Linked DNA regions of Homo sapiens. The protein of the gene in region 1 purifies or fractionates together with the protein of each later gene. This does not show direct contact. Each region holds a gene or a part of one and is shown on either strand. Other genes may lie near its edges.

Region 1 (4,135 bases):
CCATCCTGTGCTCAAACCTCAATACTTTCCTCTCCCACCCCTAATGAGTGGGTACCTATGACAGGGTCACTTGCCCCTCACCCCTTCCTTGTACTCACGAATGCAAAAGAGCAAAACAGTGAATGTCTTCAGCATGGTGGCCCCCTCCCCTGGTCTGTCCAGGGTCATGGGGCCTCTGGTGCTGGCTGTGTGCTCTGAGTCTTGAAGAATTTTTCTCCTCAGCAGGTGGTGGGATCTAAAAGCAGAATTGTTTTTACTCAGAGGACTTGTCCTGCTCCTTAAAGTTTAGTTTAGATGGCTAAATTGCACTTGACAACCCTACATTGTACTTCCTCACAGGCATGCAGGGTATTACAAGGTCACCTGCTGCTTCCTCTCCTTGCTCCTTTCCCTCACTTCCCTATCCTGCTCAAGGTCTTTGTTGGTATCAAAGATGTCAGATTTGTTGAAATATGGATTTGTCTCTGGGATCTCAGAAGCCCAGAATAGCCTGCAGAAGCTCCACAGGATGGGGGAGATGGGAGGTGCAGAGTCACCTTTTCAGATATGCATATATATATATATACGTATGTTTATATACGTATATATATGTGTATATACATGTATATATATGTGTGTATATATACGTATATATGTGTGTATATATATACGTATATATGTGTGTGTGTGTGTATATATATATATAGAGAGAGAGAGAGAGTCCTCCAACAACTTAAGAGAGGGGGCATTACTACCATCCCCATTTTACTGATGAACAAACTGAGGCTTAGAGAGGTTATATAATTTGCCCAAAGTCAAAAGATATTAAATATTAGAGCCCAAATTAGAATCCATGTTTAACTCCAAGGCCTATGGATCTAAAACAATGATTTAAACTCCCAGAGGTACCCTTCACTCCCTCTTCACCCTCCCTTACCCCTCTCACTTGATCCCTTGGATATCCTTCCCTTCCATAGAATGCTTTAGATCCAATATTACTCTCATTCTTGTCTCCTACCCCTAAAAGCTCAATACCCCAGTGTCAAGCATGTGTTAGAAAATCAAGCTGCTTGAGTTAATTTACATAAGGTCTAAATGATTCTTTCGTTGCCCTTAACTTCTAAACAGTTTTGTTGATTGCCTCTAAGGGAAATGGAATTGTTTGAATCTCAGGAAATACGGCAAAGATATTTGAGTTCAGGGAGGCTTTCCATTCTCCCTGACCAAAGTCATTATTTACCATAGGCCTTGCATATACACAAGGTAGACTCTTGAGCTTTCATGCCTCTCTCCACCTCCCCCCACAGTAACCTTTCACCAAGGGAAGGTATGTCCCAGCCACGCAAACTCAAGCTAATTCTCTTCCACCAACTTTCTACTGGGAGTCTGAAGTCCTGGCTGACTCCAGCTGTTATTAAATCTTAGCTCAGAAGAGTGGGGAAGAGGCAGCTCCCAGAATAGAGAAAGGAACTGATTTTGCTTTTCCAGACTGACCTTGGACCTCAGCCTCAAACTTGCCCCAGTGCTAACACTGGGTAGGATGGAGGAGCAGGAAGAGGAGGATATTTCGTGTTCAAAATATCTGGACTGTAGGGAACAAGTGGACAGTGAGAAATCCAAGGAAGCATAGGTCCATTGTACATTTTTCACTTTGTATCAAAGGATTTTCAGATTACCCACTCTGAATTTTCCTTATCTGTAAAGTGGAGGAGTAATATCGACCTAACATTATTGTTGTGTTGGGTTAGAGATAATACATGTACAGTGCCAGGCACATAGTGAACATTACATTTTAAAAAGATGCTTATTTTTTCTTCTTTTCAAAGGGGGCATCCAACTGGTGTAGGGCCCTAAAGATGCCCTTTCCATCTCAGTTCCTACAGTCCCTTGCTCCCACTCCTCTCAGGGCCAGGCCAAAGCTTGGATGCTACCCTGTTGCTTTGTTACCCTGGGGCTTTGGGCCAGGAGTTTTTGGGGGAAGCCAGGTTCCACTGCCAAGGGAGAGGTTCAACCTGGGATTACACCCAGGAAATGCCATCTGAGGTTTCAGCCTTGCCACTTGGACCCCTAAACCAGGATCTTTGCCTACTGGGGGATTGAGGGGAGTCAGGGAAGCTGGGCTTTTTGGCATGGCTGACCCCTCCTCAATCACTAAGGAAATTGTACCATTTATATTCAGCCCAGATGATGAATCTTATACCGGGGGAACATGAGAACAGCCCCAAGCCTTGGGTTAGTTGGCCACGCCCATTTTGGCCTTTCACCCCACCCCCACCCCCAACTTTGGCTGCCTAGCCGTTTTACCCTTCCCTCCTACTCCACCCCAAGCACTTTCCCCACCCTTAGGCAGCGCCGCAGTGCTTTTGAGGGTGACATATCTGAAATGTCTAATGGCTCGCCCCCTGCATAGCTTTGAGGGCTCCAGGAATCAAAGGGGTTGGGCTCGGCGGGGTGCCGGGTACATGCTCAGCTGAGGGTTTGGAGGGAAGACTGAGAAGGAAAAGGGGAGATATCTACAGTGCCCAGAGATTCTCACCGAGGCAGGTCTGGGATCCGGGAAGGAAAGGAGAAAGGCAGGAATGAAGCGGGTGGGGGGACAGACTGGGGAGCAGTTTGATTTACGGCAATTAATTACAGCAAGGAGACTCTTTCGGGGTTTTGTTTAGGATCCGGTGGCCAGTATTTAATATTCAGCCACTGAACTATGCGCTCATTTGTAGGTACTTACGGTAGTTGAAGGCCCGCTCCGATGTTGGAGATTCTCCAGTGAGCTCCTCCAGATGCAGCAAACTGCCCGGCATGAGAAGAGCTGTCTAAGGACAGCCTCTTCGGCTCTGAGCCCCGCCTTCCTCTCTCCCCCGCCCGCCTGCCGGCCCGCCCCAACCTCCTCCCCTCCCTGCGCCGGGCTCGGGGAGCCCACCTACACCAACTCTGCCTGGCACCTGCAGTCCTCTGACGACGGGGATTTCTACGCCCCTCCCAGCTCCCCGCCTCTCTCCGGACTCCCTGCAGAGGTTGCTGGAGCCAAATTCAGGCCCCTGCCCCCTCGCCTGTCTCTCAGAGTTTCACTGGGTCACTGTATTGTGGGGGGGAGAAGGCCAGCTCTCAAGAAGATTTGTAGATCCTTCTCTCCAGCTCCCCAATACCTTTATCGGGATCTCAGATCTTCCCCTGCCCATTTTAACGCCCCATTTATGCATAAACATCACCACAGTTTAAGTGCCTACTGTGTGCCCCTGGGCCCTGGGATCCATTATTTCTCATCTTCAGAGCAACTCTGCAAAATAAGTGTTACTCCCCTCAGTTTTACAGATGAGGAAACGGAAACTCAGAGAGGGTTAAGTAACTTGGACAGCCTTCAAAGTCCATCTTGGGGTAAAAGCCCAGGCTTTAGAGACATACAAATGTATATTTTAGTCCACATTTTACATTCAATAGTTGTGTGACCTCAAGCAAGTGAGTAAACTCTCTGAGTCCCAGGTTCCCCAACAGTAAAGTAAAAAACAAACAAACAAACAAAAAACAGCAGAACCTATTTCACAAGGCCTCAATGGGATGATGTAAGTAAAACTAACAGCACAATAGGCCTAGCATGTAGTAGGTGCTCAATAAATGGTAGTGGTTGCTGCTGCTACCACTACTACTACTACTATTAATCTGTAAGCCCTTCCCCAAATGTCTTAGAGTAACATGATTTTAATAATATAGAGCAACCTTTCACAAATGTTGATTATGAAAGACTTTTTATAATGATAATGTATGAATAAGACACTAATCAAAGCTCCTGATATATAACATATGATGAGATTAAAGTATAGCATCCAATGGGCTCACAGACTAATTGATAAGAAATATCAACATGATAGACTAATTGGCTAAAAAATAGACAAATTTTTCTTTATGTACATTTCCTTTTTTTTAAGACAGTCTCACTCTGTCGCCCAGGCTGGCGTGCAGTGGTGCGATCTTGGCTCACTGCAACCTCCACCTCCCAGGTTCAAGCAATTCTCCTGCTTCAGCCTCCCGAGTAGCTAGGATTATAGGCGCGCACCACCACACCCAGCTAGTTTTTGTATTTTTTAGTAGAGACGGGGTCCCACCATGTTGGCCAAGCTGGTCTGGAGGCTCAGCCTCCTAAACTGCTGGGATTACAGGC
Region 2 (3,500 bases), on another chromosome or scaffold:
CACCAAGTTCTGCCTGGCACAGAGTTGAATAAGGCCTCATTCCAGCCTCAGGGAGCTCCCTGCCTAGCTCAGGTGAAGGATACATTCAGAGACAAGTACAATGCAGTGGACTGAAAAGCTGAACCCTCAGCCCTATGAACTAGAAGAGGCTGGAAAAAGGTCAGAGTAATGTGGGCGCACTTGAGAGAGGCAGGGTAGAGGCTCAAAGCCATGGCTCCCAGATCCAGAAAGACCAGACCTGGAGCACAACAGAGGTAGACCAGGAAAACAATGTAGAAGCAACGGGAAGAGGCTGCCATGCTGGCTGCAAGTTTAATGAGCTCCAGAGCTCTCTCCATCACCAGAGTTGCCAAGGCTCTTGGAGCTAAAACACACATCCTGGTCTGCTGGGTATCTGGCTTCAGATCCCCCCTAGAAGGCCGCATTCTGGAGCTTGGCGTTCACAGCCCAGAGACTCCCTAAGGGCAGGGCAGGCCCCCCAGCTGCACCCCCTGCCCTGGCCTTTGTATGGGACGAGAGGAACAAGCACACTGTGGATGACCGAACGGTGCCAAGAGGCAGGGCCCACTGCACACTTGGCTCTCAATCCTGGCTGAAGGCTGGAGGCACCTCCCCTCCTCACTGCCCCATCAGCCAGGACATCCCATTCCCAAACCGCCCCCCCCCCCACCAACATCCATTCTCCACTGTACTCCCTGTTCATATGGGACTCTCTCCGGGCAGGGTCACTGCCATCAAAGCAGGTTTAGACTTCAGTCTTGGCTACCAGAGGGTGCTTTCAACTGGAATCCCAGCTCTGCCCATGCAGCCCACAGAGAAAGTCCAAATTCCCCAGCCTGGCACACGAGGCTCTCCACGTCCTGGCCTCATTTGATTTCCCAGGGTCCTCTCCCTGCATGCACCCAACATTCTTGCCATGTGCAGCTCTCTGCCATTTCTGACCACAGAGTGTCTCCCCACCTCCGTGGTTTTGTACCTGCTATTCCTTCTGCTGGAGAGTGCTCCTGCCAGTCTCTGTCTGGAAAAATCCCATTCATCCTTCAGGGCCCTACTAAGTGACCCGTCCCCTGAGGTGAGGTTCCCCTTCACAGCCCTGGCCCACAGGAGACAGCAACTGAAGGGAGTTCCCCAGGAGTCTCTAAATGCACCCCAGGGAGGCAGCAAGCCCATCTCCGACTCCAGCTCTTTAGTGCATGGGGAGGCTCACAGGAACAGCCCAGACAGGGCACTGATGTCCCAGGAGCCTGGTAACTCCCAGGCAACCCCACAGCCCTCAGAGCTCTCATCTCAAGTGCTCCTCTCAGTTCAGATCCTGATTGGAAAACTCAGGCCTTATAAGATTATGGTAAAAAGTCTTTGTTTCTCAGGGACCAATGGACTGCCTGTCTAGATTCTTTCCTCTCTGGGCCCCAGTGCCCAAGGAGTGGAGGATGGGGAGCAGGCAGCAGAAGCCAGGTCCAGGTGCAAAGACACCTTCCCCAGGGAGAGTCAGGAGAGGTGGAGGCCAGGCCTCTCACACTGCTCAGGCTCCCTGGGCGCCTGCCTTCCTGTCCTCTGCTACTGTGAGGCCTGATCTTCCTCTGTTACAGGCAGAGCCCCAGCAACATCAAATCCCAAGGGACGCTTAGAGTGCTGTGGAGGAAGATGCCTCAGCCTGCTCAGATCCCAGTGTCCTCCTAAGTCTAGACCAGTGGGAGGTCAGCCACAGGCACAGCCGGAGCAAGAGCAACGAAGCCCCAGGTCCCTTGTGTCCATTCTCCAGGGCTGGCTGGAGAAAGGAAAGAGCTCCCAAAACTTGAGGACCTACTATGTGCCTTCAGTCCTCACACCAGCTTGGTGAGACGGGGCCATATCCCCATTGCTTCAAGGAGGAAATGCAGGTACAGAAAGGTTCGGGGACTAAGCCAAGGTTTTAAAGCTCGTGATGAGGCTGAGACTTGGATCCAAGTGTTTTTCTTTCTTTTCTTTTCTTTTCTTTTCTTTTTTTTTTTTTTTTGAGACGGAGTCTTGCTCTGTCACACAGGCTGCAGTGCAGTGGCGTGATCTTGGCTCACTGCAACCTCCGCCTCCCGGGTTCCCACCTCAGCCTCCCAAGTAGCTGGGATTATAAGTGTGCACCACCACAGCCGGCTAATTTTTTTTTTTTTTTAAGACAGAGTCTCGTTCTGTTGCTCAGGCTGGAGTGCAATGGCGCAATCTCAGCTCACTGCAACCTCCGCCTCCTGGGTTCAAGCGATTCTCTGCCTCAGCCTCCTGAGTAGCTGGGACTACAGGTGCCACCACCACGCCCGGCTAATTTTTTTTTTTTTTTTTGGTATTTTTTAGTAGAGATGGGGTTTCGCCATGTTGGTCAGGCTGGTCTTGAACTCCTGACCTCAGGTGATCTGCCAGACTCGGCCTCCCAAGTGTATTGAGCTCTAGAACCTAAGCTCTTGCCTCCAGAGTCGCCAAAGCTCCTGGAGTTAAAAACCCAGCCCCACCCACTGCAGAGCGCCCCCTGATTGTGTCTAAATGGCTCTGTCTAGGAGCCTAACAGGCACAGCTCAGAATCCGTAAGAGCAGGTTGTGCCTATCCCCAGTGATAGAGCAAGGCTACCTGGATCCAAATGCTGGAGCCAGCCACATCTGAATGCTTCTTAGGCCTCATTGCCCAGAATCTGCTAGCAACTGGAATAAGAGCAGCCCCATGGGTGGGGACACTGCCCCTGTCTAGCAAGGTATAATGTCAACAGCAGAGGGACCCTCTGCCTGGTAAGCCTCAGAAAAGCCTATGTGACAACCCTGGGCTGTCATCCCCGGGGCTGTAGGGTCACAGGCAAGATTAGGGGACTGCTTCCCACATGAGTGATCTGCTTCCCAATCCAAGCCACCTAGAGACATGGAAGAGTCACCCACAGACCACAAACACACACAGTGACGCAGAGCACATGTCTCATCCATTACCTAAGCACAGACACTGTGCACATGGCACACAAACTACAACAGTGTCCCCACCACACAGTAAACACAGGAGCCCATGGAGCACATGCGGAGACACATCGCCACACACCACCAGAAACACTTGGGTGCTGCACTGCAAGGCGCACACACGCACCACTCGTGCATACACACTCGGCACACACAGATAATGCAGCAGAGGTAACAGCACAGCATACGCACTGTGAGCACATGGAGGCCCTGGCTGTGCCCCGGCAGCTCCCTGCAGACTTCTCTCTCCCGACCCCAGGTGTAACTGACTCAGTGTCTGTCCCCCTCCTGCAGGACAGGCAGCTCCAGCCCACCTTGCCTCTGCCTCCTCCGCCCTCTCTGCTCAGGCTGCCATCTCCCGGATTACCCGACCCTAGGCTGTGCCCATCACCCATGGGCTTCCTGATTTTGTGTGACCTGTCAGACTTTATCTCCCTTCTACACGCCATGCCTGCAGCAGCTGAGTCCCACCACACCCAGGATCCAGGCCTGCTGGGAGGCCAGTCCCTCCTGGGCTGCCGGCCTGACAGGGG

Evidence for each region. Proteins that work in one complex are often made in the same cells at the same time.
Region 2: the proteins of IGSF1 (region 1) and KCNC1 fractionate together in Homo sapiens (co-fractionation; one large-scale study listed by BioGRID). This does not show direct contact.

What each region holds. Positions count from the first base shown.
Region 1 is NC_000023.11:131,286,507-131,290,641, forward strand, and holds the start of IGSF1 (immunoglobulin superfamily member 1 isoform 1 precursor), read right to left. Parts: upstream 2,801-4,135; 5' UTR 2,708-2,800; intron 2,556-2,707; exon of another isoform or gene 2,516-2,555; intron 236-2,515; 5' UTR 169-235; coding exon 99-168; intron 1-98. UniProt on the Homo sapiens protein: Seems to be a coreceptor in inhibin signaling, but seems not to be a high-affinity inhibin receptor. Antagonizes activin A signaling in the presence or absence of inhibin B.
Region 2 is NC_000011.10:17,765,781-17,769,280, reverse strand, and holds part of KCNC1 (voltage-gated potassium channel KCNC1), read right to left. Parts: intron 1-3,500.